Homo sapiens: one gene and its partners. The protein of the gene in region 3 interacts with the protein of the main gene of each other region in a biochemical or structural test. Each region holds a gene or a part of one and is shown on either strand. Other genes may lie near its edges.

Region 1 (3,500 bases), on a different chromosome or scaffold from region 3:
GAAGCATATCTTTTAAACTAAAGCCACTAAAAGTACATTTCTTCAATAAGCATTTTACATACCTTATTTTTTTCTGAATTTTCTGCCACTGTCTTCAGATGAGCTGAAAGGAACTTAAGTGTTTCATAATGATGTTCAGGCAAATCGTGAATCTGAAACAGATTATTTTCACAATGGATTCAGAGGCTGAATTTTAGTTGTATCCCCCAAAATATAAAATAATACCTACTAGTCTTTTTAATGTTTTCAGACGATCTAGAGGATCTTCTTTACGATTGGCTTCAATAAAATCAGCATATTTATCTGACGACAAGAACAATAAAACAAATTTATCTTAAATTGCCTAGGTGAATTGTAATCTAGTTTCCCTTTAAGGATCAATTTTAAACCACAACATAGGAAAGAGTTCTAATAGTTTTGAAATGTAAATTTCTAAAATGTAAGTTCCCTGCAGGAACCATCCTATATTTACACAGCCTGTCCATTCCTCCCCCACCCTCCAACAACATCTAGTAAAGTGTCTTACATGGCACTTAAATACTTGGCTTGACTGAAAAAACATTTTTCTACTCATTGTACCTTATGATGTCAGAAGCCATTTGACTGGAAACAATAATATTAATTTGGCTGCAAACATGTATGAACAAGATAATACATATTTCACTGAACCTAAATAACTTTTATGTTTTTAATATATGAGGGAGAACTAAATAAAGCCTCCTGCTTCCTTTGACCAAGACATTTTGTCCTTGTTCAATTTAATATTCTATGGTTTTCCAATTGTAACTTGAACCATTTCATCTGGTATCTTTCACGGGAGTTAACTCACCATTTGTGAAGAGAGGCTCAGGGAGTTTTCTGAAGAAGGATTTTAGTAAACTGCTTATCACATTCAAATCTCGCCATTTCTAGGTGTACAAAATAGAAATATAGTATTTTCATATCCAGTTCCACCAAAGGGGGAAAAAAAAGGATCAGTTATTCAAATAAGCAAACTTACATCATCTTGTATATCAATATCAGCCATTCCCTTGTTGAGTTCTTCTTGCATACTTGAGATGGCTGCATTATTTCCAGGAACTCTATAAATACCTGTATATTCAAGACCTCTTTCTTCAACTAATTTGCAACATATGTCAACTATTAATGGAATATACTGCAAAACAAGAAATAAACATTTTATTTAATGCAGCACAAATGTTTAGTAGTTGTATATCACAGCTAAAATGCCCCTTTCATCCAAAAGGAAACATAAATTGCTGTTATGTAATATAAAGAATACAGACATTATAGATCTGGGAATAGATAAAACCTGCAAGAGATATTTGAGACAGTAAGAAGAGAACAAAGAGACTGAAAGAAAGAGAGGGACCCCCAGAGAGATAACATTCTAAAAAGGAAGTAACAACAGGTAAAGAGAATGTGGAAACCGTTCCGCTGAATAAAGAGTCAAGAAAAGAGGAGGAGAGAGTAATATCAATTCATGATACGAATCCTAGCATGGGTGTTTTAAATATATGCACATACATTTACATGTATTATACTTTCTTAATCAGGTCCTTGTTCTCATCCTTGTTTTAAAATGCTAAAAGCAGAAACACACGATTTGAAGACGAATTCTTACAGACCATTTCAGACAAATTCCTAATGGTTGAATAATTATTCAATTTCGGAGTCAATACATTAGAAAAAAAGCATTACAGGTCAGAAATACTTAGGGAAACTAAGGTCTGCTATGAAAAGGAAAACAGATTGACAGTCTCTGTTGTCTGAAAGGCTATATACTCAGATCCCATTATAATCAAAACTGAATTAATGACTTGAGGAAATCCGGTGGGCTGGTGTCTCCTACCCGATTAGTATGAGCTGGTGGGCAGTCATCTAGTCGGACGCCGAAAGTTCCTGTAGCAGTTGGCTTTTTCTCAAATGTCTTTCTCATGATACTTGGAATGCCTTTTCTCCATGTGCCTTTGTCTTTTGGGGGACTGGTATCATCTTTTGATTGCCAGTCAAAATAAAACAACATAATAAAATGGAAATGAGTGTCTAAATCATGACTTTAAAAACACTTTATCAATGTTTACATAAATCCAAGTCCTGTAATATAAATAATACATCCTATATTTAACAAAAATATGTTCTCTTCCATATAACTTTTACTTCATTCTTTTATAATGCGTGCTATAATTTTCTTTAAAACAGCAAAAAAAAAAACTACATAGAATCAGTGTGTCATCTTTATAGTGAGACTTCAACAAAGGGAAAAGTAATAGTTTTATTTCAAAATGATAGGACCTGAATCCTCGGAGTCATTTAAATTTGTAATGTCTCTGATTTAAGTATTGTTTGTATTTTCCCTCACTTTCGCTTTATAATGAAGCTGGTGTCTTGGGCCTCACAAAGGGAAAGGCCCAATGAGCCCAGACCAAGCCTACTATGAATTTTGAGCTAGTTGACATGGGGCCTGGTCAGTAGAAATGGTACAGAAAACATAAACGTACCTCAACGATGCCAATTTTAAATCATTATATTTATTTGTTAGAAAGCTAACATCAATACCTTTACTGAGAAGTTTCCTTTCCGACTCTTCCTTCGGAGAGTGTGGGCTTTGAGTCTTTGGCTCTGATTTAGCACCAAGCAAAGTTTGCCTGATGCTGAGACTCTGGCGAGGTGTTTTTGGCAACTGTTCTGCTTTGCTGTTGAAGGAAATGACATTTGTTAACAATTACAGTAATCCCCCTCTATCTATGGTTTCAGTTACCCGTGGTGAGCCATGGTCTGAAAATATTAACTGGAAAATTCTTGGAATAAACAATTCATAAGCTTTCAATTTTGTAGTCCTGCCCAGAATAAGAATCATCCTTTCATCCCGAGTAGCCACACTGTATACACTACCCGCCCATTACTATATGGGAAAAAATATAGCGTAGAGAGGATTTGGTACTATCTGCGGTTTCAAGCATCCACTGGGGGTCTTGGAATGTATCCTTGCAAATAAGGGGGATGACTGTACTGATTTTATATCCAAATTAACTGCAGGCAAGGTGGGATTCTCACCTCATCAGATTGTTGTATTCTTTTATTCTTCGACTAATTAGATCCCTGTTAGTGACTCCAGTGTCCTACAGAATAAAGTAAAATTAGAAAATCAATTCTAAACATAAATAAGTGATCCTTACTTTTTTGAGGCTTTCTATTGTACTGCTTTGCTTATTTAACACAAACACTACTATCATCTGTTCTCAGTGGAGCTGTTTCAAAGCTTCTATTCAACATCACTGTGTGAAAGATTTTCCAAGTGCCTCCCAACATTGCCAAAGGGTTTTGCTTCTTTTCTGTATCCATGCGATACCTAGGATAGTACCAGCAAGTAACATGTGTTCAATACTTATTGAATTGATCCGTCCATTTAAAATAAATGACTAGGAAGCAGCCAGTGTTTTCTCTAATACCAGAAAGAATGATCAGCATTTAAGAAATATACGTGTAAGTGATTTTTC
Region 2 (3,500 bases), about 27 Mb from region 3:
ACAGAGTGACCTCCTAAGGTCTGTGTTACCCACCCTCCCCAACCCACTCCAATAAAACAAACTACAGTCAAAAATTACACAAATATTCTCAAGACAGAAACCAATACTGATGAAATTAAAATCTAAAACCATAAAAACCCTAGAAGAAAACCTGGGCAATACCATTCAGGACATAGGCATGGGCAAAGACTTCATGACTAAAACAGCAAAAGCAATGACAACAGAAGCCAAAAATGACAAATGGGATCTAATTAAACTAAAGAGCTTCTACACAGCAAAAGAAACTATCATCAGAGGCAACAGGCAACCTACAGAATGGGAGAAAATTTTTGCAATCTGTCCATCTGACAAAGGGCTAATATCCAGAATCTACAAGGAACTGAAACAAATTTACAAGAACAAAACAACCCCATCAAAAAGTGGGCAAAGGATATGAACAGACACTTCTCAAAAGAAGACATTTATGCGGCCAACAAACATATGAAAAAAGCTCATCATCACTGGTCATTAAAGAAATGCAAATCAAAACCTCAATGAGATACCATCTCACGCCAATTAGAATGGCGATCATTAAAGTCAGGAAACAACAGATGCTGGAGAGGATGTGGACAAATAGGAACATTTTTACACTGTTGGTGGGAGTGTAAATTAGTTCAGCTATTGTGGAAGACAGTGTGGCGATTCCTCAAGGATCTAGAACCAGAAATACCATTTGACCCAGCAATGTCATTACTGGGTATATACCCAAAGGATTATAAATCATTCTACTATAAAGGCACATGCACACATATGTTTATTGCAGCACTATTTACAATACCAAAGACTTGGAACCAACCCCAATGCCCATCAATGATAGACTAGATAAAGAAACTACCATACATATACACCATGGATACTATGTAGCCATAAAAAAGAATGAGCTCATGTCCTTTGCAGGGACATGGATGAAGCTGGAAACCATCATTCTCAGCAAACTAACACAGGAACAGAAAACCAAACGCTGCATGTTCTCACTCATAAGCAGGAGGGAGAGCTTTAGGACAAACACCTAATGCATTCAGGGCTTAAAACCCAGATGATGGGTTGACAGGTGCAGCAAACCACCATAGCACAAGTATAACTATGTAAAAAACCTGCATGTTCAGAACATGTATCCCAGAACTTAAAGTAAAAAAAAAAATAAATAAATAAAAGTACAGTGAGCTCCCAGCTATCTGTGCTAGAAGCAGAATAGTTTATGCACTGAGAAAAAGGAGGAGGAGAGTAGCGGGGCCCACCCTCTGCCTCCTCAGGCACTCTGTGAGGTTATCCCTGGATCCCTGGGAGCAGGAAGAGGGCTGACGGGTGAAACTGAAGACAGAAAAATATAGCTCTGAAAAGTAAGCTGCACTATAATGAAGGCGTGAAGGACACCAGCTGCACCCAATAAGAAGGTGGTGAGAGGTGCCGGAGTGTTTTCCTCGGCATGTGTTACTGACACATGTGGAACCTGTTTCTCTGTAGGTCTTTAAATCAGAGAAGATTCTCCTAGCCCTGGGATAATTAGGGACACTTATTTAAAGGTTGAGGATTCAACTACATGACCTCTGAAGAATGCATCCTTCAAGCCTGAAGATATACGTAAAGCAAAAACCATTTATTTGACATAGAATTAAATAATTTATCACTTGTGTCTTAACATTTAAGCCCATCTATAGAACTACATGAAAACAAAATTTGTCTGTTGTGGTAATTCAGGCATTCTTTCAACAAAGATTTAACATGTCCAACACATACAGCAATGCTGGAGAAGCAAAGTACAGAAAGATTAGAGAGGTGAGGGAAACACAGAATTTTCCACTGTAAGCAGCATAAGAGATTATTCAGAGGAATAGGAGGAGGACAGAATTAATCAGGGAAGACTTCTTACAAGGGATGAAATCTAAATCAAGTCTGAATTTGTGATGATCACAAATTGGCAGACAAAGAATGACAGAAAGAGAAACCAAAAGGGCATTTACACATTAAGGACTACCCATAAACAAAGGCATGGAATTGCAGTTTTCTAAAGAAAAAATTAGCCTGGAAGCTATGGAGGGACCATGATGGAGAACAAGGTCAGGCCCAGTGGACTATGGCCTTGGACACTCTGAGGAAGGTGCTCCAACACAAAGCAAAACATTGTGACTGGTTCTTAAAAAACTACTCCCGAGACACATGCAAACGCCCATGGCTCTTCCTTACCTTTCCCATAGAAGAATTTGCGGTAATAATAGGCCCCAAGGTCAATGTGTTCTATGATGTAGCGCTTCACTTTCTCCCTGTGAATAGGCTGGTTTTCTCTGGGCACTTCCAAGACGGAGACACCTGCATTTGTGCAGTGAGAGCTGAGTGACGATTCGAAAGAGCAGCTTTCCCCAGAACTGAAAGAGGATGAGTTGGCTCGAGAGAGCGCAATCCGCCTGTCGCCTTCCCCTCCAGTCTCATTTCTAAAGTAAGGACAACTAAGGACGAGGTCGTTACTTTTCCCATCACCCTCATCGGCATCCAGGTTCTCTTTGGAGTTGAGGTCCTCCTTGCTCCCTAAAGGGGACTCACAGTTGCCTGTCTGGCCCGTAGGCATCTGAGTCTGGGATGCTGCAGATGCCCCAGTGGTTATGTTTTTCCTTTTCCCCACATTAGCCCTCGTAGCCATGGCTTCGTTGATATTAAACAAAATGCTCTGGACATCATAATGTGCAAAACATCGCTGACAATTCCAAGGGCGAATGCCCCTCTCCAGTCGGCTCTCCTCCAGCTCAGACGTGAACTTGAAAGTTTCGTGCTCACTTTTAACAGTTCGAAGCTTTCGGAAGAGAGATGTTTCCACCGACTCTGATTTCAACCTCCGTTTGAAAGGCTTGTCCCTGTCTCTCCCCATCAGGAGGGCACTGTCCACATAATCTAATCCTGAGATGCGGACAAATTCTCCCCTAGAAATCTGTGCTGCTGCATGAAGGCTCGGAGAGATTGCAGGGTCACAGCGGAAAAATTCAGGGAACCCAAAAGGGACCATTGCTTTGTGGTCATAATTTTCTACTCGGTACCCTCTGAGCATAGCAAAAAAGTTTTCACCAGATAAGCCTTGCCTGTCGATGGATGAAGTACTTCCATACTCCCTGTGCAGGGCAGCCCCGGTGTTGGGGTTGACTGCATTTTGGTCTAAGACATCTTCGGCATCAATGTCACTGATAGTGACATCACTATTGCTCCTCTGTCTTATGGGGTGAAGTCCTCTTTGGGGGGAATGGACAAAGATGTCTCCGATTGTGTACTTGGCCTCCACGAAGTCCAGATCGAGCTGTTCATCTTGCTGACCTTCACTCTGGTCACTCTGCCCATTCTGCAGGACAGAAGTGATGCTTTCATAACTGGTCTGAGACCGGCTTTCCCACAGTGCCTTGCATGTTAGCTCCTTGGAACAGTCCTTTTTAGGAGGCCATTCAGACACCCTTGCTCTCACACCCATCTTGGGCACAGCT
Region 3 (3,500 bases):
AAAAATGTAAAAATCATTCTTAGCTCATGGGCCATACAAAAACTGTCGGGACTTGGCCAAGAGCCATGGTTTGCCAACCCCTAGCCTTGAGCATCCAGTGCCTGTGTAGTGTTTGAATCCAGCATCCATTTCTTTGCGAGGTAGTTGTTCTCCTCCTAATTGACAGGGCTGAGGCATTCCAGGATTTCCTTGCCCATCTCAGCATGGCAGGGACCAGGTACCCAGCCATCAGCTGGGGCAAGCCCCTGGCTCTACAGTTTGGAGGAACAGGAGGCTGAGCCCCTCTTGGGACCCCAGCACACAGCTCACCTTGTTAGCAGGACAGGCAAAAGTCGGAGCCTCAGACCAGCAGCCTCAGAGGGGCCTTTGGAAATCCCCTGGTCTGCACCCTCATGTTTCAGGCAAAGAAGGCAAGACTCAGAAAGGTGAGCGATCTGCCCGAGGCCACTGAGGGTGACAGGGCAGAGCTGGGACCACACTTTGGGCTTCTGACTTTGTGCAGGGTTGGAAGGGACTGCATGGGCCTGCGTAGAGATGGCACTCCCTTTATTGGTCACCACAGCCAAGAAAGTCACAGCATCCCCAAGGGCCACCTTCCTTGGGAAGGAGCCATGCCAGGTTTGGCACCCACACAGAACATGGCACCCAGCCCAGCCACGGCAGGGGATGCTGCCAGCTGGGCTCCACGGCAGGATCAGGGAGGGGCTCTGTGACCCCTTTCCTGGGCTCATCCCATGTTGCAGGCAGAGTTTGGGAGCCAGTGCTGCTTTGTCAAGAGTGATGCCCTCTAGCATAACACCTACCGCCCACCTGCTTCCAGGCAGTGGGTCCTGCCAGGATGTGGGAAGGACAGCCCTGTCACCTCCTGGGCTGGTCACCCCGCAGCCCAGGGTGCTGGGTGGCTGGGGCCAGAGAAGAGAAGAAGGTCTGGTTCCTGAGGAGACTCCCCAGGCAGAAAAGGGCAGGCTTCTTTAGGGAAGCAAGGTGTGAGGGCAGTAATCATTCTGGAGCTCTGAATTTCCCTCGATAATGATAAGATGGGGAACAGTGTTCAGAGTGAGGGAGGGTAGAAATTTTTTTTTTTTTTTTGAGACAAAGTCTTGCTCTGTCACCCAGTCTGGAGTGCAGTGGTACAATCCTGGCTCACTGCAACCTCTGCCTCCCTTGTTCAAGCGATTCTCGTGCCTCAGCCTCTGGAGTAGCTGGGATTACAGGTGCCTGCCACCATGCCTGGCTAATTTTTGTATTTTTAGTAGAGATGGGGTTTCGCCATGTTGGCCAGGCTGGTCTTGAACTCCTGACCTCAGGTGATCCACCTACCTCGGCCTCCCAAAGTTCTGGGATTACAGGTGTGAGCCTCTGTGCCTGGCCAGAAACATTTTAAGAATAGAGTTCTCTTCCCAATTTGGGGGCTGATCCCTGATGTTTGCAGGGACCCTGATTTCAGAAAAAAATATCAAGTGGGGCCAAAGGCACTGAGAACTACCAAATGTAGCCCATTAACTCTGCCACCACCCCTTGATAATGACATCAGGTAAAGCAAAGAGCTACTAGGTGGACATTATCTCACTGGAGTCCTCGCAATCACATGAGATAATAGTATTATCCTCCTATTTTATAAATGAGGAAACTGAAACCTGGGTGAGCAAATTACTTAACCTAAGGCAACCAGTTACTGAGTGGAAGAGGCAGAATCTGAACTGACCCCAAAGTCCATAAATTGCCTCCACCCATGGTGGACAGGAGACATACACTCAACATATAAATAATGATGAGTGCACCAGCCAGCCATTATTGGGTCATCTTGTCTATCCCGACTCCACCATTTCTAGGGAAGACTTTTATTTAATGGTGGGGGTAGGGAGGCTCAGAGGGTGGGACCATTATCAAGAGCTCCAGGAAAGAGGATCTCATCATAGTCCTTTCAAAAGTTCTGGCCCATGTCTCCCAGAGCAAGGTGTCCAGTCTCTTCAGGGTTACTCATGCTGTCAGGGAGCTTTGCTTCAAGACCCGTTTTTTGTTTTGTTTTGTTTTGTTTCTCGCCCAGGCTGGAGTGCAGTGGTGCGACCTCGGCTCACTGCAACCTCCACCTCCTGGGTTCAAGCGATCCTCCTACCTCAGCCTCCCGAGTAGCTGGGATTACAGGCACACGCCACCATGCCTAGCTAATTTTTGTATTTTTAGGAGAAACAGGGTTTCATCATGTTGGCCAGGCTGGTCTCAAACTCCTGGCCTCAAGTGATCCACCCGCCTTGGCCTTCCAAAGTGCTGGGATTACAGGCATGAGCCACCACACCCGGCCTAAGACCCTTTTCAATTTTTTTTTTGACAAGTTCTTGTTCTGTTGCCCAGGCTGGAGTGCAGTGATGCAATCATGGATCACTGCAGCCTCAACCTCCTAGGCTCAAGCGATCCTCCCCTCTCAGCCTCCCGAGTAGCTGGGACTACAGGCGCGTGCCACCACACCTGGCTAATTTTTGTATTTTTTTAGAGATGGGGTCTTGCCATGTTGCCCAGTCTGGTTTCGACCTCCTGGGCTCAAGCAATCCGCCCACCTCCCTTTTCAGTTTAAAACCAAACCTCACACTTGCCTCACTACCCCTCCTCCTCTGCAGATGTAGCTGTGGAGATTCTAGGAGCAGATGGGCTCTCTTTCAGACAGGAGGTCTGGCGGAGATGCGCCCACGGCTTTTCCTCTTCCAGACTTGCTGCTGAACCACTGGCCAGCTCCAGCCAGGCCCAGCTACCAGCTCTGTAGTGATCCTGGATCCCAGACCCTTGGCCTGAGCTGTTGTGAGCCCAGCCTGTGTGTGCATGTGCATGCAGCTGTGTGTGTGTAAGCAGCTGTGGGAGCCAGGACAAGATTAACCTTGGTCTGCTCCCACCCCCTGGATGTGGGAAAGTGCCCACTCAGCAGGGAATGCCTGGAGGGCAAAGGTGAAAAGTCCAGGGAAGGGGACGTAAGGGGTTATGGTGGGACACAGAGCCGAGGAAGAGAAATGTGACTTATTGCCAAAGGTGGGCTAATCAGGTGGGCCTGGAACCAGGCCAGCCACTCACCCTGAACAACAGAGCAGAACAGGGACTGCAATTAATTAAGTACCAGGGGAGGGTCCTCCTACCTCAGGGAAAGAAGGCGCTGCCAGAGGGCCCTCAGAGCAAGAGACTGCTGCCTCTCCAGCTCCCAGTGCCTGCCTCATTCATAACTGCCAGAAGGTAGGGCCCCCACAGCACAGATTCCTGGCCCCTCCTGGAAGATTTCCATCCAACCCATTCCCCTACCACCACCACCATTCTCTTACACAGAGCCCTCCTCCCTAACCTGGAAGAGCAGTAAAGATTCTGTCTAACTAAGGGCTTGGCCTGATGGGGCTGGGAAAATCTACCTTGGTCTCTAGACCAGCCCTGGTGCAATCACCAGGAAATTCCCTTTCCAAACAAGCACCACCAACCACTATAGCTACCAGTTATTTAGTCTCTGCTACATGCCAGGCACTGTG
Region 4 (3,500 bases), on a different chromosome or scaffold from region 3:
CTGTTGGCAATCACTGGCATCCCTTGGCTTGTAGATACATCACTCCAATCTCTGCTTCTATCATCACATAGCCTTCTTCTCTGTGTCTGTGTGTGGCCTTTTCTGTCTCCTATCAGCACACTTTCATTGGATTTAGGGCCCCCTCTAATCCACTATAATCTTACCTCCATCTTTACATAATTACACCTGCAAAGACCCTCTTTCTAAATAAGGTCACATTCTGAGGTTTTGGGGGTGGATATGAATTTTGGAGGGATACGATTCAACCCACTACAGATACTGATCAATCATTTCCCAAACAGAAATGCAGTGTTATCCTTAACCCTTTCTCTTATCTCCTGCATCTACATAATTATCAAATCCTGTCAATTCTCCTTCCTTAGTCTTCAATTTATCTCCTTTTCATCAGCCCCATTACCACTTTCACTTCAATAACACACTTGTCTGTATAACAAACTCCTTTGCTATAACATTGAATAAACCTAGTTATTACTCTCATTACTGTGCCTGTACCTAAACAGATATGCATTGCTAGAGAAAATCACACAACAGTACAGACCGGTTGCACCATAATTTATGATAACTAACCCCAAGCCATTCCTCAACAATGCCTGGCAGTCCTGTTTCTCTGGCCAATTGGCTCTCCCACTCTTCCATTACTATCTCAAACCTCTTCTACTAGCCTCATGCTCTTACTCTCACCTACTTTTAGCAACTGACGTGGGCTCCTATTTTACAGAAAAAAAAAAGCCATCAGACAGAAACTTCCACAACCTCCTACTGTCTGCTCCCATTCTCTCCCTCTTCTAAGTAGCTGTTATTACAAAATCTTACTAATATTAACTACCCCACTCTTTTTCTATATTTGGCTTTTCTCTCAAGTAGATGCTTCTCACAGACTTATGTTTTATTTGTTTTTATTTAAAAACAAAATGAAAACAAAACCTCCCTTGTACCCTACAATCTCACTTCTTGCTATCTATTCAGCCACACTCACTCTTTCTGTCTGCTTCTCTCTCCACCTCCTCCATCCCCCATCAGACATAATGTGTTTGTGCAGAGACTGATTTCTCTAGCTCCGTAGCCTCAGGCCTCTTACTTAATCCCTGTAAAGTTGGAGTAACTATACTAATAAACCTGTTTCCAGGACTGTTGTGAGAATTGGATGAATCAGTCTATGTAAAAGACTCAGAAGAGAGGTTGGCCCATGGTAACTGATCAATAAAGTTGGCAATATTGTTATTGCTAATAATATAACACATTCATCTATCTATTCAGGCAACCAGCTGCACAAGATTGTCACTTGGATTTATCCTGAACTCCCTCATCCCTCTGTTCCAATCCATCTCTAGGTTTTTTTTATTTTTACCTCTCCAGTTTCTCTTGTTCTGAATACCTTCTCCTACCTCTATTATCTTACTCCACACTATCATAATCTCACATAAACAGAAACCTTCTAAACAATTTTCTGCATTCATTCATGTCATTCTCTGCAATTTTCTCCATACCATAGTCAGAGTGAACTATTCTAACTTCATATCTGAGGCTACGAACTGGTTTAAAAGACTTCCCACGATTATGATAAAGCCCCAAATATTTTTGCATGGCCATAAAGTCATGTAGAAATAGTCCCTCTCTGTCTGTTCAAACTTATCTTGTGCCTTGCTTCTTTTGCCCTCTTCTCTTGTTACACATACCAACTATCTCTCGAATCTTCAAATGCACTATGCGCTTGCCCACCACAGGTGCTTTTCACTTCCCATTCCCTCTACGGCAATGTTGAATGGCATTCCTATTTCTCTTAGCTTAATTCATTCCTATTTACACATAATTCCTTTATGTCTTAGCTCAATAACTTCCTCAGGGAAGCCTTCTCTGACATCCCAAAATAGGGTCTCATTTACTCTTATGTACCTTTCATAGTATTCATCAAAGTTGCAATTTCTCATTTACATGATTATTCTCCCAACAAATTCCTCCAATATAATCCAAACTCCATAAAAGCCATGACTACATCCCTTTTTTGCTCTCCATTGTATCCTAAGTGCCCAATACAGCATCTGGCACATAATTCGTGTTCATAAGTGCGTACTGGATCAATATTAAACTTAAGCTTCAATGTTGCAAAACAGCCTATTTAAAAACAGGACAGATTTAAAGCAGCAAAGGGACAAGCATATCACCAGTTCATTATCAATGTGGCTCTAGATCAAAGTTAAAAGTTTCTCTACTGTTGGCTATGAATAATAAATCACTTCAAAGAGATACTAACAGAGCAATTGCTGAGGGAAAGGAGGATGTGAAAGAAGGTGTATTGTTGTGCTGTTACTTTAAAAAAGGAGTAACAGGCAGAACACTCTTTCAAGGCAGAGGTGAATTTTTTAAAGTATTGGTTCACAATCTTTATTCTATTCCAACACACCTACTACTGCTAGTATTACTATTCCTACTGTAAACCTAAAAGGAAAAGGCTGAGGCACAAAATATACTTTAGTTTACCTGAGCCAAAATGAGGACAGCTACTCAACACATATTTCCCAGATGCCTGGGGAGTGCTCTGGCACCTGAGTTACAAGCAGATTTTAAAGGGAAAAAGGAACAAGGCAGATACAAAGTTGCTTGATAAGAATTCTCATTGGTTTACAATCACTGATTAGTGACTGGCTATTCATTGTTGCACTATAAGGTATGACTTATGGTGTCCAGCATATGGTATTTTATGGCTACTTGGCGTCAGTTAGTCTAAATCCTACATAGAAGGTGGCTTCCAGAGATAACTGCTTAGGTCAAAAGGGAGTGCCATAACTGCGGTTTCATTCCAATGCCTCTCTAGGCCTCACAATGGAAAGGAACTCAGTTGTGTTTTGTTTTGTTTGTTTGGGTTTTGTTTTGTTTTTTCAATAGGTTTCTGGGGAACAGGTGGGGTTTGGTTATGTGAATAAGTTATTTAGTGGTGATTTCTGAGATTCTGGTGCACCCATCACCTGAGCAGTGTACACTGTATCCAATGTGTCATCTTTTATCCCTCATCCCCTTCCCACCCTTTACTCCAGATCCCCAAAGTCCATTGTATCATTCATATGCCTTTGCATCCTCCTAGCTTAGCTCCCATGTATGAGTGAGAACATACATTTTGTTTTCCACTCCTGAGTTACTTCATTTAGATAATGGTCTCCAATCAATTCCACCCAGGTTGCTGCAAGTGCCACTATTTCATTCCTTTTTATGGCTGAGTAATATTCCAGGTGTCTGTATATATACACACCACATTTTTTTAATCCACTTATTGATTGATGGGTATTTGGGCTGGTTCCATATTTTTGCAATTATGAGTTGTGCTAGTATAAACATGTTTGCAAGTATCTTTTTCATATAATGACTTCTTTTCCTCTGGGTAAATACCCAGGAGTGGGGTTGCTGGATCAAATGGTAGATCTACTTTTAGTTCTTTGAGGAATCTCCACACTGTTTTTCATAGTGGTTGGTGGTTTACATTCCCA
Region 5 (3,500 bases), about 60 Mb from region 3:
TTACATAACCAACACTCAATCCATGAAAACACTAAACACTAAAAACTTAGCAGGGGCTGGGCGCGGGGGCTCATGCCTGTAATCCCAGCAGTTTGGGAGGCTGAGACAGGAGGATCACCTGAGGTCAGCAGTTTGAGACCAGCCTGACCAATATGGTGAAACCCCGTCTCTACTAAAAATACAAAAATCAGCTGGGTGTGGTGGCACACGCCTGTAGTCCCAGCTACTCGGGAGGCTGAGACAGGAGAATTGCTTGAACCCAGGAGGTGGAGGTTGCAGTGAGCCAAGATAGTACCACTGCACTCCAACCTGGGCAACAGAGCGAGACTCCATCTCAAAAAAAAAACAAACACTTAGCAGGACTGCTGGTGAGGAATGTTTAACCCTAGTTACTCTGACTGTGGAAGGGTATCTGATTGTATAATCTAGTATGAAACCATAGAGTAAGTTACTTCTGTTTTGTTGAGGCATAAGGAAAAGAAAGGGCAGGGTCTCTCCGGCAACATTAAACCTAGACATTACTTGCTTTCCACTGAACTCCATGCTTGCCTATAAAACACTCTGAACTTTAGCAAGAAAAAAGCCACATTCTCAGGACGCTTGACCACAGTGTGCACTTTGAGGAATGCTGTTCTTGCAGCACTTGTGTGCATCTGTGTAACAAGAAAGAAGAAAACAAACCCACTAGACTTTTGTTAGGAAAATACAGTTGGTGGAGACTGTGCAACATTAAGCCAGCAACTATAGACAGGCTGAGAATTCCCTACAGGCATCAGCCCTGACTCCAAGGCTTCATGCCTCACACCAGCCATGGCTGGCCTCCTTCAGAGCCTGCCACAGAGCCTTGGCACATGCTGTTCCTTCCAACAGCATAAGCAAAAAAATCCTGCTGTATCTGAGCTGCTACTGACAGATGTCTCTAGCAAGGAAGAGATAAAGACAACTCAATTTCACCCTTCTTCAAATATATTTTACCTAGAACAGATCCTATATTTTTATGCAGATCATATTTAAGGCTGCCTGGATTTCTCCTCTGAAAAGCAAAGCATATGGAAATTCAAATACTCAAGTATATTTACTTTAAATAATTAATATCAAAAATAGAAGGAGAAGCAAGATTCTAAAATATGTATTTGCCTAGTGTACTTTCCCATTGTGATAGTTACTGTTTGGTCTTAGCCAGGGATAAATTTCAAATATGAGAAATCAATGAAATCCATTCCATTGAGAATTATCTGGAGAAGAGTGATCCCAGACCCACTGAGTAGTTTTTATTTCTCATTTATGATCAAGAATGGAATCTACTTATCCCAAAGTTCATTTGGCCTGCTGATACTAAGTACCTTCCCTACCTCCAGCCACCATAAACAATACTTTGTCCTATATGGCAAGACTCTGGGCTGGAGTTCAAGGCCTTTCACAGTTTGATTGCTTATCTAAGAGTTCTATGAGTTGGGAGAGGGATAGAGCCAATATTGTGTGGAAACAGAGGCACCCACAGAGAGAGGACACCCTCATGCTGCTGATAGACAGCTCAACCGCCTTGAGTGCCAGCTGAGACAAGTGCTTTCCCCAAATCGACATTTTGTGACTTTTTGAACTTGCATTTCTACCCCCCCACTTTTTTTTTGGTATGTTTAAACTACTACAAGAGTCTTGCCTCGAGACAAACTTTCTAACCCTGGTTTTATTATACTACCATCTCAAAAATAATAATAATAATAATTCAAGAAAAAGAAGCTCGGCCGGGTGCAGTGGCTCACGCCTGTAATCCCAGCACTTTGGGAGGCCAAGGCAGGCGGATCACGAGGTCAGGAGATCGAGACCATCCTGGCTAACACAGTGAAACCCCATCTCTACTAAAAATACAAAAAATTAGCTGGGTGTGGTGGCGGACGCCTGTAGTCCAAGCTACTCGGGAGGCTGAGGTAGGGGAATGGTGTGAACCCAAGAGGCGGAGCTTGCAGTGAGCCAAGATCGTGCCACTGCACCCCAGCCTGGGCAACAGAGCAAGACTCCGTCTCAAAAAAAAAGAAGTTCAAGCTTCTTGCTCAGGCACTGAGGCTCAGCATAATCCAGCCCTACCTCAGGCCCCCAGCTCCTCAGCAAGCCCCAATTGGTCTATGCATGGTCACCCACACGAGCCTGCCCTTTGCTCATGCCCCATGAGCACTTACTCATAGTACGTGCTAAGTAAACATTTGTTCCAAGTGAACGAATTTAAGACCTACCATTTTCAAGGCTCAGTTCAAATTTTAGATTATATACGAATCCTTCCATGACCACCACAGTCTGAAGGTATCATTTCATCTTCTGAATTTCAGTTATCGCTCATGTACTTAACAAGTTCTATGTAATACCTACTGCGAGGCAGGTATCAGGGCTCAACCCAGAATAGCTACCGTCCTGCCCTGAAAGAGCCTGGAGTCCAGTGGGGAGAGTTATGAAGTTTAACTGCTGAACAACGTTGTGGGTGCTGGAATATTTAAATACAAAAGCTTTCTTATTGTTATATATATTTATTGAGCTCCCTACTAGGATTAGGAACCAGCCTAGGTACTTTTTATGGGTTCTGATTCAATCCTGATGGGCCATTTTACAAGGAAAAAGAAAAGAGACTCTGAAAAGTTAACTTGGTTTCCCCTGACTATTTGGATAAGCAGAGTCTGGATTCAAACCCAGTTGAGTCTGGATTCCTTCCACCATCTACCCTGCCTCCCAGGCCTGAGGTGTAGAATGTATTCTGGAAATACAAGTAGTCAGACTAGGAAGAGGAAGTCATCCCAGGCAGAAGGAACAGCAGGAGATGCATTCCCAGAATGGTGAATGGTTCAGAAAGATCAGAGCACAGTTATATGTTGAAAAAAAGAAGTAGGTTAGACTGTGAGCACTGGACTCAGTCCAGTAGACTATAGAGGAGCTTCAGGATCCATGTCGTGTGTCCCCAACAAGATAAGCTTTTTTTTTTTGGCCAGGAGGGATGGAATCTTGCTCTTGTGGTCCAGGCTAGAGTGCAGTGGTGCGATCTCGGCTCACTGCAACCTCTGCCACTTGGATTCAAGCAATTCTTCTGCCTCAGCCTCCTGAGAAGCTGGGATTGAAGGCACCCGCCACCACACCCGGCTACTTTTTGTATTTTTAGTAGAGATGGGGTTTCACTATGTTGGCCAGGCTGGTCTCAAACTCCTGACCTCAAGTGATCCACCCTCCTCAGCCTCCCAAAGTGCTGGGATTACAGGCGTGAGCCATCATGCCCAGCCAAGATAAGCTTTCTTAAGAGCAGGCACCACAGCCCCTTTCTGTATTCTCACACCATCAGGTATGTATTCAATACAACTGGTGGAAAGTCCACGGGCTTTTCTGGATCATTTAGTTTCATGTCCCCATTGGGACCCCATGGTTCTACGCAGCTTTATGAATGCTGACTATCTGTGCCTCCAACCAGGCTTGGCACCTCAGAAACCAGTGACCACCTCAGACCAAAAGCAAACCTTCTCTAG
Region 6 (3,500 bases), about 48 Mb from region 3:
TGGGTGGCTATGTGGGAATATATATATATACAGGAATATATATATATAGGAATATATATACAGGAATATATATATAGGAATATATATATGGAATATATATATGTATATATTTAGGAATATATATAGGAATATATATAGGAATATATATAGGAATATATATATATGAATCTATATATAGGAATATATATATATGAATCTATATATAGGAATATATATATATGAATCTATATATAGGAATATATATATATGAATCTATATATAGGAATATATATATGAATCTATATATAGGAATATATATATGAATCTATATAGGAATATATATATGAATCTATATGAATATATATATGAAAATACATATATGAATATATATGAATATATATATGAAAATATATATATGAATATATGAATACATATATGAATATATATATGAATACATATATGAATACATATATGAATATATATACATATATATATATGGCTGATTAATCAGGATCCATCAAATACATGCTAATCTCCTCAAACCATGACCCAACTTCCTAAGGGATCTCCCAGAACTGACTACTCACTTTTTTTTGTTTGTTTTTTGTTTGTTTTTTTGAGGCAGAGTCTTGCTCTGTCACCCAGGCTGGAGTGCAGGGGTGCGATCTCAGCTCCCTGCAACCTCTGTCTCCCGGGTTCAAGTGATTCTCCTGCTTCAGCCTCCCAAGTAGCTGGGACTACAGGCGTGCACCAACACATCAGGCTAATTTTTGTATCTTTAGTAGAGACGGGGTTTCACCATGTTGGCCAGGCTGGTCTCAAACGCCTCACCTCAGGTAATCCACCCACCTCGGCCTCCCAAAGTGCTGGGATTACAGGCGTGAGCCACCACGCCCAGCCTCCTGCTTCTCTTAAAAAGCTGTATTGAAGAGCTCTAAAACTATTTGGTAGAAATGGCCTAACCTAAGGGTCTAAGGAAGGTTAAGTATCCACTGTATTCAGTAAATTGCTAGGTATCAATGGCAGACAAAATGACTTCTACTGAAGATCCTAGTCTATCAATAGCACTACCCTTCTCCTAGTCCACCAGTCTCATAAATTTGGGAATAAAATTTGATTCAGGGCAGTGCACGGTGGCTTACACCTGTAATCCCAGCACTGTGGGAGGTGGAGGCGGGCGGATCACCTGAGATCAGGAGTTTGAGACTAGCCAGGCCAACATGGTGAAACCCCGTCTCTACTAAAAAATATAAAAACTTAGCCAGGCATGGGATCAGGCACCTGTAATCCCAGCTACTCAGGAGGCTGAGGCATGAGAATTGCTTGAACCTGGGAGGCAGGGGTTGCAGTGAGCCAAGATCGTGCCATGGCACTGTAGCCTGCGTAACAAGAGCAAAACTCTGTCTCAAAATAAATAAATAAATAAATAAATTTGATTCAGTCTTAAAATACTGGTTAATTCTGCTACCAAAACGTCTTGGGAATCCTGCCACTCCTCTTTGTCCCCACCATAACCGTTCTGATTCAGAAGCTCGTTATCTTTTCCTAAGATTGCTACAAAAACTCCTAGGCTTCCTAACCCCAAGCTCTCTTCTGCTCTATATATTAATATCAGAATTCTCTCTTTAAACACTATGTTTATCACCATATAATACATAAACCTTCCCCGGCTCCCTTTCTACTACCACATAAAGTCTGAATCCCTTCATTCTCCCTACCCTACCCATCTTATCAATCTAATTTCTCTCTGCTCTACAATAATCTTAACACTTGGAGACCACACCATGTTGGTGCCACCCCAGACAGAACCTTGCTCGTGTTGCTCCTCTAGTCTGAAATGGCCTCTTCTCTTTCTTCGACCTGAATAATTCCTAACTACTCTGCCTTTGACTATTCTTATTAGCACCAACCTTGCACTCTTCTCTAAATGTACCTTTTGGTGTACATAACGATTCAGCAATTATGTACCATCTTTTTATTTTGTGTTGCTTTGTTAATAACATTTCCCAACAAGCATTTAGGCTTGAGGCCATGCACGGTGGCTCATGCCTGTAATCCCAGCACTTTGGGAGGCTGAAGTGGGCGGTTTACTTGAGGTCAGGAGTTCGAGACCAGTCTGGCCAACATGGTGAAACCCCCGTCTCTACTAAAAATACAAAAAGTATACCGGGTGTGGTGGCAGGTGTCTGTAATCCCAACTACTTGGGAGGCTGAGGCAGAGAATCGCTTGAACCCAGGAGGTGGAGGTTGCAGTGAGCCGAGATCACGCCACTGCACTCCAGCCTGGGTGACAGAGCAAGACTGTCTCAAAAAAAAAAAAAAAAAAAAAAAAAAGAATGTAAGCTCTATGTTCTCCTGTACTATCTCTCAGAACACTGAGAACTGCACTGAGCCATCTGATAAATATTTCAAGTCCAACCAACCGTCAAGCGCCACAGATCACAGGTCATCACCAGGAGGGCTGCTAGATTGGTTCCCTACATGATTTGAGGCCAGGCTGTGACTGATGACTACAGATCCCATCACACCACTTTGTAGTGGCTGCTCCCAAATACTGGAAAGGAGCAGGGTCTGGAAAGCAAGACTCTGAAATTACTTCACTCTAACTTTTCAAAGCCCCTTTCTCACATATTCATGTCTTAGTTTGCTATTCTTTAAAATGAGGAGGAAAATCTTAAGGAAGTCAACAATGGTAATAGAGGGATACTAGTGACTTTAAGGCCTACGCTGAAATCACAATAGAAAGACAATAAAATGGTTTTAAATTGTGGCAGAGGAAGTTTCGTATCCAAAGGGATTTCTAATTGTTGAACTAATGGAACCATCCTCCAGAGATCACTGAAAATGGGAGAGGCCTTCAACCTGTCTTTACTAGGTTAAGAGACACCCTATTTGGAGTCCAGAGTAAAGGGCAAGAGGATCCCTTGAAGTCCTGCCAGATTTTTGTGATTTTTTCCTGAAATCTGTCCAATTGTTTTAGTACAATAAATTGGGGTATTCTTCCAGACCTTAAGAACACCTTCCAGGCCTGGCGTGGTGGCTTGCACCCATAATCCTGGGACTTTGGGAGGCCGAGGTGGGCAGATTGCTTGAGTTCAGGAGTTTGAGACCACTCTGGGCAACATGGTGAACCTCATATCTACAAAAATTAGCCAGGTGTGGTGGCACATGCCTGTAATGCCAGCTACTCAGGAGGCTGAAGTGGGAGGACCACCTGAGCCTGGGGAGGTCAAGGCTGCAGTGAGCCATGATCATGCCACTGCACTCCAGCCTGGGCGACAGAGTGAGACCCTGTCCCAAAAAACAAAAAACAAAACCACCTTCCAAATCCTATTCCAATTCTATTAGGGGCCATGGATTTCTCAGTTCCTCCCCATGTTTCCATGTCCCTGTACTTCCATCTTCTCTCCCATTTGATCAGGCAGCTTTGTTCTCTGTTCTTTTCAAGCTTTCATTTTCACTGATTTTCAGGAAAGCCAGACAATGATTTCTGAAAAACCATTTGGCCCACTGAAAGGACA
Region 7 (3,500 bases), on a different chromosome or scaffold from region 3:
GGGCACAGCGGCTCACGCCTGTAATCTCAGCACCTCGGGAGGCCAAGGCAGGCGGATCACAAGATCAAGAGATCAAGACCATCCTGGCCAACATGGTGAAACCACGTCTCTACTAAAAATACAAAAATTAGCTGGGTGTGGTGGCACGCACCTGTAGTCCCAGCTACTCAGGAGGCTGAGGGAGGAGAATCACTTGAACCTGGGAGGCAGAGGTTGCAGTGAGCCAAGATCGCGCCACTGCACTCCAGGCAGGGCGACAGAGCAAGACTCCGTCTCAAAAAAAAAAAAAAAAAAAAAGAGACCAAGAGTAACCCCTCTGAAATCCATTTCGACTCCTGCTAAAACACCTCAAAGAACCAGTCTGGGGCATCACTGTGTTAAGGGCCAAATATGCCATGGACGCCCCTTCCTCAGGAAGCTGTTAAAACCATAGATCCTTAACTGGAATGAGCTAAGTTTATTCCTCCCTGAAGGCAAGAGATTGGATAATGCCCTTTCAAGGACTTGCAGATCCTTAAGAATTTGTGATTTTTTAAATCCTCCTGTGGATATCTAGGCATTTCAGGCTGCTTCTTAGACTTAAAAGACAACAAAACTTCCCCCATCTCCTTGCTATTATTTCATTCAGAGCTCGCAACAATTGTGTGTGCAAAATTAATCCTCTGTGCTGTGAAGTCGGTTCCCCCAATGCTGCTTCTCCAAAACCTCTTCAGGCCTCCTACCTAGAGGGCTTGATGAGCCCCAGAAACACTGTATATAAAAACATATAATCCAAGAATAACTTTGTCAACCAGGTGTTCAATGCTATCTGGTTTCATTCAATGGCTTCATAAAGAGAGTTGAGAATCTTAAGTTTCTGATTTTCTGGAAGTTCATAGACCACTCATTATTCACTCAGAACGCATTCTGGTAGGGAATGCATGCATGGAGCAGCCAGAACTTTCAGAATGGAGACTGTTTGCTGGCCCCATCAAGAGTGTGGGGTGAACACACTACTGGCATTGGAGAGAAGCCACGGCCGGGGGTAGGCCTCTTCCTGGAGCTGGAGAGGCTTAAAAGACAAATGTGTCTTCTCCGCATGCTTAGTGTCTTAACAAACCATCTCTCGGCTCAGCCGCCTTATCAGACCACAAAAGGCCTCTTCAACTATTAAGTTTTCAAATTGTAAATGCTCCCAGTGTCTTCTTGAACACATTTGTAAATAGAAGGCAGAACTCTTTAGCTCTCAGACAATCAGACTGAATCAGATGACCTACCTGGCTTCAAACACTCCCCGCTAGAACCCATGGGAAATGTATTCTTTTCCAATTCCATCTTTTCTCTATTTCTAAAGTATGGATAATAGGAGATCAAGATTGTCAAATTTCTAGATACCATAAAAAGATCTATCCTTTTATATGCAACCGATGCATAGGTCCAAATCTAGACATAGACCATCCGGTTGGAAAATAAGGAATAATTTCAGAAAATTTTCCAGATAATTCTATACTTTAATTTCCTTAAAAAACATTCTTCAATGCCTATAATCCCAGCACTTTGGGAGGCTGAGGTGGGTGGATCGCTTGAGCCCAGGAGTTTGATACCAGCCTGGGCAACATGGTAAAACCCCATCTCTACAAAAAATTTTTAAAAAATAATAAATTAGCCAGGTGCGGTGGTGTCTGTAGTCCCAGCTTCCCAGCTACTTGGGAGGCTGAGGTGGAAGGATCACTGGAGCCGGGGAGGTCAAGGCTGCTGTGAGCCGTGGTCATGCCACTGCAGCCTGGGTGACAGAGTGAGACCCTGTCTCAAAAAAAAAAAAAATTATTCACATTTTCCCCAATTTCATTTAATTTGGCACATATCTACTTAGTGTTTAGTAAGTCAAATGCTCCTTTTCTTTCCCGCTTCACTAATAAGTGAGACTGTTTTTTCATCTTTTCAACTATAATCAAAGACCCATTAATAAAACCAAGGGGGATTGCAGATTTTTAATTCTTCCTCAGCCACCTGCATCTTGGCCAACACCACTGCTATTGAAAGACAAGAGTTCCCCAGATCAAGCAACTGTGTTTTGTGACTCTAGTTCTGGTTGTCTAATGGGGCAAGTTCTCTGTTTTTCTGGGCCTTAGCTTCCTCAAATGCAGGTGTTACCGAGTGTGAGTGCATGATGCCCTTCCAAACCATGGAGGACAGAGGAGACTGTCCAGCCTCTTCCTGCCTTGCACCTGGTAACTGGATCTTTGCAAAAGAGAGGGACATTAAATTTAGACGCAGCACTGCAACAAGCCAATGGATTAAAAGGCAGAAATCTTGAAGGATTTGTCAAGGTGCAAACAGGGAGACCCAACTGCTCAGAGTAGTCCAAAACTTTTCATCCACAGCTGAAAGAAAGCTTCAGGCAAGTCTGCTAAAAACTCCTGCCTTCTCCATTCCACTGGGCTCTCACTGACTTTGGTGAGAGGTTTATGCATTTCTGGACACACTGTTCGAAAGGACCCCCTATACAGCAGATGCGGTCATGGAGGGCCTTCCAAACACACCTTAGTACCTCTTTCGATTCCTCCTAAGAACAACCCTGTGAAGTAGCGACTGCATCAATTTTATACATGAGCAAATGGAGGCTTCAACATTTCTAATCATCTGGCCCAGCAGGAAGTTCTCTGCACTGCTAGGATTCCAGCCAAAGCCTCTGACCCCAACTCAGGAGTCCTTCCTTTCCCTCCTGGCTGCCTCCACTGGTGCCAGGTGCCGGGTTTGCTTCCCCTGGCAGGCAGCAGTACCGCAGCCCTTTCCTCCAGGCCCCAGCTTCACGAAGTGACCCCAGGTCTCAGCAAATGCCTCCCCTGTTTTCCTCATTCTCTCCAGGGCCTCACCAACCTCTGCTTCCCTCTGGCCTTCCAGAGAAGGCAGATGCCAGGATTGTTCTTTCCCTGCACTTGCTCACCTCTTCCAGCCCAAACACCCCTGATCTAGCTTCTCTACTCTCTCCCACATCTCTTTTGTTTACCAAACATGCCTGGGAGGGAGAATGGAGGGACTCTCATGAATAAACCCTCCTTCAATGCTACAACCTCCTCAAAATACTGTGGATTATTTTCAAACAGCACACTTCTGGATCCAGTGTCTATACCTGCAGTTTCACTGTCTTGGCAATCATTGTCTCCTTCTTCCCTTGCAGCCTGGCTTCATGAACACCCCTTGCAGACACTGTTCTATCAGTGGCCTTTTCCTATCATCCTTCTGGGGATGGGCGTCTCTGAGACATCCCTGCCTCTCCACTTGTCTGCTAACCTCTCTCATGGGCTTGTCTGCATAGCTCTTCCTGTCCTTGAAACTCAACTCTGACCTCAGCATCCTCCCTGGTGCTGCGGGGATGTGTCTGAGGGCAGAAGAAAGAAGCTGAAAACTTGAGTCTCTAAGTCTGTCTTCTTAAAGAGATTCAGCCTCTCTTTGGATTTGCTCCTGACCTTTTGTGGGTTCATCTTTGGAATTTGTCCCCTTGTGGATGGTGCAGTAGG

What was found.
Region 1: the proteins of CDK18 (region 3) and ARHGAP21 interact in a test that uses a peptide from one of them, tested with the Homo sapiens proteins (one large-scale study listed by IntAct).
Region 2: the proteins of CDK18 (region 3) and SIPA1L2 interact in a test that uses a peptide from one of them, tested with the Homo sapiens proteins (one large-scale study listed by IntAct).
Region 4: the proteins of CDK18 (region 3) and GOPC interact in a test that uses a peptide from one of them, tested with the Homo sapiens proteins (one large-scale study listed by IntAct).
Region 5: the proteins of CDK18 (region 3) and PDZK1 interact in a test that uses a peptide from one of them, tested with the Homo sapiens proteins (one large-scale study listed by IntAct).
Region 6: the proteins of CDK18 (region 3) and ARHGEF11 interact in a test that uses a peptide from one of them, tested with the Homo sapiens proteins (one large-scale study listed by IntAct).
Region 7: the proteins of CDK18 (region 3) and PDZD2 interact in a test that uses a peptide from one of them, tested with the Homo sapiens proteins (one large-scale study listed by IntAct).

Annotation. Positions count from the first base shown.
Region 1 is NC_000010.11:24,594,888-24,598,387, forward strand, and holds part of ARHGAP21 (rho GTPase-activating protein 21), read right to left. Parts: intron 3,123-3,500; coding exon 3,058-3,122; intron 2,697-3,057; coding exon 2,560-2,696; intron 1,996-2,559; coding exon 1,853-1,995; intron 1,157-1,852; coding exon 1,001-1,156; intron 909-1,000; coding exon 830-908; intron 304-829; coding exon 230-303; intron 153-229; coding exon 63-152; intron 1-62. UniProt on the Homo sapiens protein: Functions as a GTPase-activating protein (GAP) for RHOA and CDC42. Downstream partner of ARF1 which may control Golgi apparatus structure and function. Also required for CTNNA1 recruitment to adherens junctions.
Region 2 is NC_000001.11:232,511,634-232,515,133, forward strand, and holds part of SIPA1L2 (signal-induced proliferation-associated 1-like protein 2), read right to left. Parts: coding exon 2,224-3,500; intron 1-2,223.
Region 3 is NC_000001.11:205,507,669-205,511,168, reverse strand, and holds part of CDK18 (cyclin-dependent kinase 18), read right to left. Parts: intron 1-3,500. UniProt on the Homo sapiens protein: May play a role in signal transduction cascades in terminally differentiated cells.
Region 4 is NC_000006.12:117,592,512-117,596,011, forward strand, and holds part of GOPC (Golgi-associated PDZ and coiled-coil motif-containing protein), read right to left. Parts: intron 1-3,500.
Region 5 is NC_000001.11:145,700,869-145,704,368, forward strand, and holds part of PDZK1 (Na(+)/H(+) exchange regulatory cofactor NHE-RF3), read right to left. Parts: intron 1-3,500. UniProt on the Homo sapiens protein: A scaffold protein that connects plasma membrane proteins and regulatory components, regulating their surface expression in epithelial cells apical domains.
Region 6 is NC_000001.11:157,035,743-157,039,242, forward strand, and holds part of ARHGEF11 (rho guanine nucleotide exchange factor 11), read right to left. Parts: intron 1-3,500. UniProt on the Homo sapiens protein: May play a role in the regulation of RhoA GTPase by guanine nucleotide-binding alpha-12 (GNA12) and alpha-13 (GNA13). Acts as guanine nucleotide exchange factor (GEF) for RhoA GTPase and may act as GTPase-activating protein (GAP) for GNA12 and GNA13.
Region 7 is NC_000005.10:31,642,131-31,645,630, reverse strand, and holds part of PDZD2 (PDZ domain-containing protein 2), read right to left. Parts: intron 1-3,500.